2 separate regions of the Homo sapiens genome follow, and region 1 is linked to region 2. The links come from fine-mapping of genetic effects on gene expression. A gene starts in region 2. The other region holds a variant in brackets. All regions are shown on one strand. Distances are from middle to middle. Region 1 overlaps AASDH (aminoadipate-semialdehyde dehydrogenase). Region 2 holds the start of PAICS (phosphoribosylaminoimidazole carboxylase and phosphoribosylaminoimidazolesuccinocarboxamide synthase).

What was found. PIP is the estimated chance that this variant, and not a neighbour inherited with it, causes the effect. A credible set is the group of variants that fine-mapping cannot tell apart.
Region 1: its variant is the best candidate, but not a certain one, in a credible set for the expression of PAICS in testis (GTEx, PIP 0.53).

What each region holds. Positions count from the first base shown.
Region 1 is chr4:56,340,474-56,345,856 of GRCh38, forward strand. AASDH (aminoadipate-semialdehyde dehydrogenase) reads right to left here. Exons shown (of 15, transcript NM_181806.4): 12 at 4,654-4,817; 13 at 3,089-3,211; 14 at 2,362-2,493. Among named protein-coding and RNA genes, the nearest start is that of AASDH, 44 kb to the right of the region's middle. The variant CATAT/C (reference allele first, on the strand shown) is at 2,892.
Region 2 is chr4:56,432,876-56,438,258 of GRCh38, forward strand. It overlaps PAICS (phosphoribosylaminoimidazole carboxylase and phosphoribosylaminoimidazolesuccinocarboxamide synthase), which reads left to right and starts at 3,385. Exons shown (of 9, transcript NM_001079524.2): 1 at 3,385-3,453. The coding sequence starts at 3,438. It overlaps PPAT (phosphoribosyl pyrophosphate amidotransferase), which reads right to left and starts at 2,740. Exons shown (of 11, transcript NM_002703.5): 1 at 2,475-2,740. The coding sequence starts at 2,602. RefSeq lists enhancers at 2,445-2,624, 3,472-4,355 and silencers at 2,715-2,914, 3,055-3,344.

The DNA.
Region 1 (5,383 bases), 92 kb before region 2:
CATGCAGAAGAATAAACCAGACCCCTCTCTCTCACTGCATATAAAAATAAACTCGAGATGGATTAAAGACTTAAATTTAAGACCTAAAACTAGTTAAAACTACTAGAAGAAAACATAAGGGAATCACTTCAGGACACTGGTCTAAGCAAAGCTTTTATAGCTAAGGCCTAAAAAGTATAGGCAACAAAAACAAAAATAGTTAAGTGGGACTATATTAAGCTAAAAAGCTTCTGCACAGCAAAGGAAACAACAGAGTGAAGAGACAGCCTGTTGAATGGGAGAAAATACTTGCAAACTATTCATCCAACAAGGGACTAATATATAGAATATGAGGAACTCAAACAACACAACAGTAAACAAATCCTATTAAAAAGTGGGCAAGGGAGATGAATAGACATATCTCAAAAGAAGACATACAAATGGCTAACAGGTATATGAAAAAAACACTCAACATCACTAATGATCAGGGAAATGCAAATCAAAACCACAATGAGATATCATCTTACCAAGTTAAAATGGCTATTACTAAAAGAACATAACAAATGCTGGCAAGGATGTGGAGAAAAAGGAACTTACACTGCTGGTGGGAATGTAAATTAGGGTAGTCATTGTGGAAAACAGTATGGAGATTTCTCAAAAAACTAAGAAGAGAACTATCATATCCAACAGTCCTACTACTATTTACCCAAAGACAAAAAATCAGTATATCAAAGAGACAACCTGCACTCCCATCTCCCATGTTTACTGCAGCACAATTCACAAGAGCAAAGATATGGAATGCACTTAAGTGTCCACCAATGGATGAGTGGATAAAGAAAATGTAGTATATATAGATGCAGTGAAATACTATCAGGCCATAAAAACCAAGGAAATCATGTCATTTGCAGCAACATGGATGGAACTGGAGACTTTTATCTTTTTTTTTTTTTTTTTTTTTGGAGACAGAGTCTCGCTCTGTCACCAGGCTGGAGTGCAGTGGCACAATCTTGGCTCACTGCAACCTCCACCTCCCGGGTTCCAGCGATTCCCCTGCCTCAGCCTCCCAAGTAGCTGGGACTACAGGCATGTGCCACCACACCCAGCTAATTTTTTTTTTTTTTTTGTATTTTAGTAGAGACGGGGTTTCACCATGTTGGCCAGGATGGTCTCGATCTCCTGACTCTGTGATCCTCCCACCTCGGCCTCCCAAAGTGCTGGGATTACAGGCGTGAGCCATGATGCCCAGCCATTGGAGATTTTTATCTTAAGTGAAATTAAGCCAGGCCCAAAAAGACAAATATTGCATGTTCTCACTCATATGTGAGAGCTAAAAAAGTTGATCTCAGGGAGGAAGAAAATGGAATATTAGAAGTTGGGGGCCGGGCGTGGTGGCTCATGCCTGTAATCTCAATACTTTGGGAGGCTGAGGCAGGTGGATCACTTGAGGTCAGGAGTTCGAGACTAGCCTGGGCAACATGGTGAAACCCCGTCTCTACTAAAAATACAAAAATTAGCCAGGCATGGCAGCATGCGCCTGTAGTCCCAGCTACTCGGGAGGCTGAAGCAGGAGAATTGCTTGAACCCGTGAGGCGGAGGTTGCAGTGAGCCAAGATCACACCAATGTACTCCAGCCTGGTAACAGAGCAAGATTCTGTCTCAAAAAAAAAAAAAAAAAAAAAAAAGAAGTTGGGGTGGGTTGGCTAATAAAAAAATAAAAACAGGTTAGTTAATAGGTAAAAACATATAGTAAGAAAAAATAAGTTATAATGTTCAGTAGCAGAGTAGGATGACTACAGCCAACAACAATATGTTGTATATTTCAGAACAGCTAAAAGAGAAGACATGAAATGATCCCAACACATAGAAATAATAAGTACTCAAGGTGATGGACACCACAAACACCCTGACTTAATCATTACACAGTCTATGATTGTAACAAAATATCACATACATACCCCATAAATAGGTACAAATGTCTGTATCAATTAAAAGAATCCAGGGGTTTTATTTAAACTTTCATAATCTCAATAGAAGTTATAATAAAACAGGCTAAAAACTGGTAATATTTTAAAAATTGGGGGAGATGACAAAAGAAGTGTAACAATGTTTGGGTAGAAATCTTTTAAATCTACTATGTCTTCTTTAAAAAATTAAGAAATCCATGGCTTCACAATTAAAATAGAACTACTTCTCAACACCGTGAGTTGAATAATGATGTTTAAAATGTTACTTCAGTTGTCACCATCTGCTTTGCCTTTAAGAAAAGTAAATTTAAAAAATATAAATAGAACTATAGATATATAAAATTTCTAGTTCTATTTTTTATATATACATTTATATATATATAAAAATGTATATATAAAAAATTTCTAGTTCTATTACCTGTTCTCCAAAGTGAGTAAAGCAGAGTAAATTCCCATCTACACAGCCAATACAAATATACTGTGAGCAACATTGTGGGGAAGAGAAGAGTGGTTTTCCACAGGAATGTTTCCAAATAACGTTCCCAGTAGCCTGTCACAGGAAAAAGCAATTCACAGCATTTTATGTCATCCTACTAATCAGTTACCCTTTAAAAAACAAACTCATACATCTCCTAGGGTTAGAACTAAAATAGCAGAAAATGCTGTAGTGGTATGCAGACATAAATGAAGCTGGTATACATATATAAAATTAATCAGTGCTATTTATGAGAACTAGGAAAAAGGCTTGCAATAAAAGCAGCAAAGAAAAAACTAGCACCTAAGAGTTATCCCTGTGATGGACATAAAGTTCTTAATATGATGAAAAAAATTTTGTCAATTTGAACCTGGGAGGCAGAGGTTGCAGTAAGCTGAGATTGCGCCACTGCACTCCAGCCTGGGTGACAGAGGGAGACTCTGTCAAAAAACAAACAAACAAACAAAAAAATA[CATAT/C]ATATATATATACAGGAATTTAAATTTTCTTATCTTTCTAGATCTCATGTCAATCATTTTTAATGAATTCCAGTTTGGTGTATGTGGACTACTACAATTAACTGAAAACTACTCAAACTTTCAAAGCTCAAAGCAAAAATTTTACAAATTTAAAGAAAAGTAATAAAATCAATATGTATTATTTTATGCCTACAGGATTTACAGCCAGTAAAAGTCCTCCCAATGTAGCAAAATACAAATGATGTGGAATCAGGTTCAAACACGGAGAGGAAAAGACAGTTCCTCCACATTTTGACTTCCAAACACACTTCTTTCTCTGCAAATAAGAAAACAAATTAATTTGTTCTTGTTGATGGTTAACAAATCCATATAACCTACCCTTCATGATATTATGTCTGTTTAGTTAATATAAGTTTTTATCTTTAGTATAAAGTACATGCCTACTGTGGAGAATCAGATTAGTATAAAGACAAAGGACACTACCCAGAGACAACCAGTGTTAACATTTTAGCATTTTCTCATTTGATCTTTTTGGGGTATGGGTGTGTGTGTCTGGGCGCACACATCTGAGAATATGTGTATATACACACACACGATCTAATATAGCTGAGATCATTCTGAATATATAACTTGGTATCATATTTTGCTCACTGATTTTGTAAAATGATTTAAATATAATTTTAATCCATAATATCCCATATGAACATAAATAATTTCTCTCTCTACCTTATCATTGAACGTTTTTTGGAATTTCTAGGTATTATAAACAACTTAGAAATAGGCATCTTAATGCATATATTTGACTATGTTTCTGATTATTTTTGCCAGGATTTCTAAAAAACGAATTTTATTGGATCAAGGATATGATATTGTTACCTATGGTCAAATCGTTTTCATTAGAGGCCTCACTAGTTACAACCTCTTACCACTCTCATCAGCATTTAATGTTATGATGAATATGTCTTCTAATCTAACACCATTTGTTTATCTCAAGAGTTTTTAATTTTCATTCCTTTGATTATTAAATTCATGAACTATTTATATACATTTACTAGCCGTCTCTTCTTTGGGGTCCTGTGTATTTATGTCCCTTGTTTATTTTTCTATCTGCTCTACATTTGTCTTATTAATTTGTATTTGATCTTTATTTTCATTAATACTTATAAATATAAATGAATTTCCACTTTTTTTACATTTATTTCAAAAATTTTCCCAGCTTAATTTCATAATTCTTACATAACATTTTAATTTTTATGTAATCAGGTCTTAAAACATCTTATTGATATCTTCGTCATTTTTTTCTACTGTCAAGATGATAATCCTAAATTCTTTAATTCCAAAACTCTGAGTAGCACACTTATTTGTGGTAAATTTGGTAATGAAGTTAAAAAGGTCTTAAGATATTAAGACTTAATTAATGCTTTATTCTTCCCAGACCACACAAGCTTGGGAAATAGTTAATACCTGTTCCAAGGCTCAACTACACCTGACAGTTACTCACTCTTCTTCTAAGTATTGAAATTTAATGCTTCTATGCTTATGGTATTAGACTAATGAGGTGAATTTTCTTTCTTTTTTTTTTTTTTTTTTTGAGATAGAGTCTCACTCTGTCACCCAGGGTGGAATACACTGTCACAATCTTGGCTCACTGCAACCTCCACCTCCCAGGTTCACGCAATCCTCCCACCTCAGCCTCTGGAGTAACTACCATTACAGGCATGCGCCACCATGCCCAGCTAATTTGAGGTCAATCCTTACATAAATATCTAAAGCATATGCGTGCTGGTCATGAGATCCAATGTAAATGAGTCCTGTGGTTGGATCCATGGTTGCCGAGCTTTTGACAGCATCTTCAGTAGTAAACATCCAGTATTTTTCTCCACTATTACTTTTCAGAACATAAACTAATCCATTATAACAGCCTACCAAGAAACAAAGCACAAAAGATTTGATATAGATATATTACTGGAAAATAATTCTTTAGCCTACAGCATGCAATTTATATTCAGTCCTCCTCTTATACATAGGCTCTATGATAAGCTCATCTGGCTTACATTTTAGCAATGTAAAGCAGAAACTGAATTAGTAATCACTTATGTAAAATATCTATTTAGTAGGTGTATCTTATCTTTTAAAAGTACTTCACTAATTTTTTTACATACTTATTTTTAAGAAGCGCTTCACTACTGAAAAAATAATAAAGTACACTGTGGTGGAGAGAGATTTTTGACACATCTGGATTCAGATTTCATCACGACTGTCACTGGGCATTTAAATCACCCAGTGTTGCTAAGCCCCAAATTATTCATCTGCAGAATGTGGAGTCATCTACTTCCAGGGTTATTGCAACAATTCAGATAATGTGAACAAATGCCCAGTGCATAGAAGGTGTTTAAGAAGTGCTAACGTTAATAGTCAATGTTCATTGAGCATTTACTATGTGTCAGGCGTTATTCTAAGTATGTTACATCTATTAATTCATTTAATC
Region 2 (5,383 bases):
TTGTTTTAAAACTAACCAGTGAGTGAATGAGGGTGAGAAAGTGAAAACAGAGCTTTCTGCAACAGACCACCACTTCTCAGAGTACGATATATATATACATATATACATACACACACGTATTTTATATATATATATATAAAACTAAACTAAAAGAAAAAGTTCTTAGTTTTATTCTGGCCCTTATCTATCAGTTTCGAGCAGCAGATAATTGTATTTCCAAGACATAAGGGAGTGTCATTGTTCTTCCAAGCAGAATCAGTCCTCCCAAAGGATGAGCACTTTAGCTCATGTAAAATTTTGAATTGATTATGGGTGAGAACCAGCCCTCTTTGTGCACCTTAATGATTCTATGCCTACACAAGAGAAATGTTAAATTGTTTTTCAGTAATACATTTGTTCCTCAAAACCACATAATCACATCATTATTGCCCTTATCTGGTATTATTTAATCTTACAATTCTTTCACAGAAAAGCAACTATAGAAAACAGATATATGTAACCAGGAATCAAATGGTATTCATTAAAAAAAAAAAAAAAGAAAAAAAAAACCTATAACCATGAATACCAAGTATTTTCCTAAACTGGGTACTAAAACTCCAACCAGTGCTAACATGTAAGTTAAAAAAAAAAAAAAGCCTCTTTTTCTTCAGGCACACATTTAAAGGGAAGGAGAAAGGGGGATGAAAATTTCTTGAATAACTTTGGCAAAAAAAGTAAATATAGTGAAGTACAGTTCATACATATTTTCTACAGACCACCAGGCAACCCTAAAGACCTCTAGATTCTCCCTCACCCCCATGACAGAGTATCCAAAATAACAACTGTTTTTTTTTTTTTGAGACGGAGTCTCGCTCTGTCGCCCAGGCTGGAGTGCAGTGGCGTGATCTCTGCTCTCTGGAACCTAAGCCTCCCGGGTTCAAGCGATTCTCCTGCCTCAGCCTCCGGAGTAGCTAGGACTACAGGAGCGCATCACCACACCCAGCTAATTGTATTTTTAGCAGAGATGGGGTTTCACCATGTTGGCCAGGATGGTCTCGATCTCTTAACCTCGTGATCCGCCCGCCTCGGCCTCCCAAAGTGCTGGGATTACAGGCGTGAGCCACCGCGCCTGGCCATAGTTTCTAAGAATGTTACAAACTAATGTTGCTCACAACTACCACATAATCAAGAGTTTACTTTCTCCTTGGATTACGTAACTAATTTTCTCAATAAACTTTTTTTAAAAAAAACAAGAAATCTATTATGGTCAACCCACAATTATCCAAGATTGGAGCTACGCAAGTTAAAAATATTCTTTTTGATGCTTCCCACATTCTCAGCTCTTTAGTAAACAAGGAACACACAAAATGTGAAACTGAAATTGAAGTACCTGGGACAATGAAAACAGCAAAAAATACTTCTAATTTAAGTTTGGTGGAGGAAAAGCTAATCTTTTGGAATGCGTTTATACGTGTTGCACCCATTTTGCTGTTACGTGTTATTGCCAAGTTCCTTAACTGTAGTGTAAGTTGTTACCACTGTATTGCCTTATGGAAACTGTAATACTTTCAGTAAGAATATCAAACCCAGGTTTGTTTTTCTTATCCTAGTGTAATAATTTATATCAACTTCCAGTTAAGTCAGGTAGTAAGAAAAGGAAAGATCACCGAAGCAAAGTAATTTTTTTTAACTCGAAAGGATCTCCCAATTTTTCAAAATCAAGTGTATGGATCTTGGCATAGAGACACTACTCCCCTGTCCCCCTTTTGAAGAAGGGAGTTAATTTTTGTCATGTTATTACCAACGTTTTCATTCATTAGGCAAGACGTCTACCAATGAATCTTTTCCAGATGCACTGTTCCCTATGGTTGGCTTATTTCCATTTAATTTATGTGAGATCTACTACCAGTAGTCATTCTCAACATCAACTAGTCATCTTTCCCTGGGTCTGAAGTCTAGCATCCTCAAGTTCCCATAGCGATAACTACTTTCAAACCCATAATCTGCTCAATAGCTCTGCCCTTGCAAACAAAAGCTTGTGGTGGTTGGAGGCCCCGCGCGAAAACCTTTAGGTGTTGAAGGACCTGGACTGGCCGCCACGCCACACTAGCCTATTACAGGAGCAGCCACAGGCTCCGGGAGACTAGAACCCGCCTGCAGTCGGGGAGGAGCCCTGACCCAGCTAGACCAAGCAAACCGGCGGTTTACAAGCTGGCCAGCCTCTGGATGGGTGCACACACCGGGGGGCGGGGAGGGAGAGAGCCCCTAAAAGGCATAAGTGGCTGGGAGGGTGGGCAGGACAGGCTAAAGTTCATGGAAGCGAGGTGCCCCTCGTGCACGCCTAGGCAACCCGGTCGACGCCACAGGCAGGTACTGGCTTAGGTCGGAGAGGTCGGTCCTCCCGGGCCCTCGGGCGCTCATGAGAACGCCGACTGCGGGAAGCGGCTCCGAGAGATGGAGACGCACGCCCCCGCCACCCCCACCCTGTTGCTCACCGGTGCTGCAGCCCCACGAGTCCCAGAGTGATCACATGCGGTACATCCAGCTGCGTGGGCCACTCTCCTGAGGCGATGCACCCGAACACGCCACATTCCTCTCGGATCCCCAACTCCTCCAGCTCCATGTCGCCGCCGAAAGCACGTGGAAGGACCTGCCGCTGCGGCCAAGGTGTAAGCACCAACCAGCTGCCAGCTCGGCCCGTCGAGCTCAGAAGCTCGCGCTCGCGACAGGCTCTTCCTTCCCGAGGGTGGCCCCAGCTACTGCGGCGGCGCGCGCTGTCCCTAGGTGGCGTGGCCAGCTCAGCCCTGCTCCTCCCCCTCCGAGTCCACCAACGAGCGAGGGCGGAGGGGCGGTCCCGCGGCTGAGGGGCGGGGTCACGGATGCTGTAGGGTGGAGCTAGCCTTCCCCTAAGAGCTGCCTGGAAAGCTGTATTTGCTGCACGTGGAAATCTCCGTTATTTTCCAGCACCCAACAGTAGCGTAATGGGAGTAACGGACTTAACCTCATTTCTCTTTCAGAGCATTTAGCCTTCATATGCCCTTCCCTGCATGCTTCCCCCAGGCCGTCAAGACTTGGTACGCTCCAACTTCTGAGTCGCTCCCGCAGCCGAGAAGGGGCCGGGGTATGCGAGCTTCCGCAGAGTGGGGAGGGGCCGCCAGTGCGCGCCACTTTTCGCCTGTCCGGGCACTGCGCCAGCGCGGGGCGGCCCGGAGGCGGGGTCGCGTCTCTGCGCCTGCGCGGCGGGAAGCCAGTGGGGCGTTGTTTCGTCCGATATCCGCGTTTCAGTCTCCGCCCATACCCCTCCGGGTTAGGCGGCTGTAGCGGAGCTCGAAAAGAGTGGCGCAGGGTCGCGCGGCCCCGCCTCCTTCCCCGCCCAGCGAAGCTCTCTGACCACCCCTCTTTTCTAGAGTTCTGCCTCGCTTCCCGGCGCGGTCGCAGCCCTCAGCCCACTTAGGATAATGGCGACAGCTGAGGGTGAGTAACAGGGATCCGGGCCCTTCACGGTCTCCCTGACCCCCAGGCCGTGAGCTCGCGGCCACGTGCGAGCCGCGAAACTCTGTCCCGCCTCCCTGCAGCAGCGCCTCTAGGCAGCCGCGCGGGCGCACACGTGGCCCAGGCGCTCCCGGGCCTCCCCGAACTTTACTGCCTCGGGGATGGGGAGAAGGAGCAAAGTAGAGGAGAACGAGAAATGGCCAAGGGGTGGAAAGGTGCCTGGAAGTATTATTTATAATCAATAGCTATTGCAAAATACAAGCAAATCAGTCTTGATTCGTCAAAACCTGAGTCTTGCTTTGCCCGTTAGGTTAATGACCTTTCTAAGAAGGTTAATAATTGAAACTTTTGAAAGACCTGTCTAGAGGCCGGGCCTGGTGGCTCACGCCTGTAATCCCAGCACTTTGGGAGGCCAAGGCGGGCGGATCACCTGAGGTCAGTAGTACGAGACCAGCCTGGCCAACATGGCGAAACCCCGTCTCTTACTAAAAATACAAAAAATTAGCTGGACGTGGTGGCGCGCGCCTGTAATCCCCAGCTACTCAGGAGGCTGAGGTAGGAGAATCGCTTGAACCCGGAGGCGGAGGTTGCAGTGAGCCGAGATCGCGCCATTGCACTCCAGCCTGGGCGACAAAGCGAGACTCCGTCTCAAAAAAGAAAAAGAAAAACCTGTCTAGGGGGCGTGTGTGTAAGTAGTCTTTGATGCCATGGTGTGTGTGTGTGTGTGCACGCGCGCGTGAAGTAGTCTTTGATGCCACGATAGCTTGGGGTGTGTGTACGTGCGTGTGCGTGTTTAAGTAGTCTTTGATGTCATGGGTGTGTATGTGTGTGCGCGCGCGTGTTGAAGTAGTCTGATTCCATGATGGCTGGGGAGGGGGGCTGTTTTTAGGTAGTCTTTGATGCCATGATGGTGTGTGTGTGTGTGTGTGTGTGTGTGTGTGTGTGTGTGTGTTCGTTCCAGTAGTCTTTGATGCCACGATGGCTTTGAAGAACTCCAAAACCTTTAGGCAAAAAAGTTGCACTATCAGGAAAGATTGTTCTTGCTATTTATGCTGGAAAAAAACAAATGCTGGTTTTTTCCACACACCCAGTTGCTATATGTATAGTGAGGCAAATTGCTTTTGTGGCTGCTGGGTACATTCTTTTCCACATAGAAAGTAACTGAATTCAGATTTTAAAAAGCTGTAGACTCAGGCCGGGCGCTGTGGCTCACGCCTGTAATCCCCAGCACTTTGGGAGTCCCAGGCGGGCGGATCACGAGGTCAGGAGATCGAGATCATCCTGACCAACATGGTGAAACCCCGGCTCTACTAAAAATGCAAAAATTTGCTGGACGTGGTGGCGTATGCCTGTAATCCTAGCTACTCGGGAACCTGAGGCAGGAGAATCACTTGAACCGGGGAGTCAGAGGCTGCAGTGAGCCGGGATCGCGCCACTGCACTCCAGCCTGGCGACAGAGAGAGACTCTGTCTCAAAAAAAAAAAAAAAAAAAAAAAAAAGCTGTAGACTCAGCAAAAAAGATTCAGATGATATTGAGTATCAACTCCCTAGAATCAAGGCAAGGACCAGAATTTTTCTTGCAATCATGGTACCTGTACCTCTAAAATGGCAAATCTCTAAAATCTTTGCTCTTCCACTTCTTTCCATTTGTGTACCGTTGGCAGGTTGATTTTTCTTAAATGTCACTTTTATGGTCTCTAAAAGGCAAAAGTGGCAACAAAGGCAAAAATGGCATCTCTAGAGATGTTAAATCCAGTCTGTCCAGTCTGAAATCCCTTTTCATTCAAATCCTGAATACTGCTATCCCTTCTACCTCTTCAGCCCTAACTTTGATTTTTCTCTCCTGTGAATCCTTAGCTATGTTCCAGTCAGGTTAATTCACCAAAGTTTGTTTTTCATTATATACATTTTA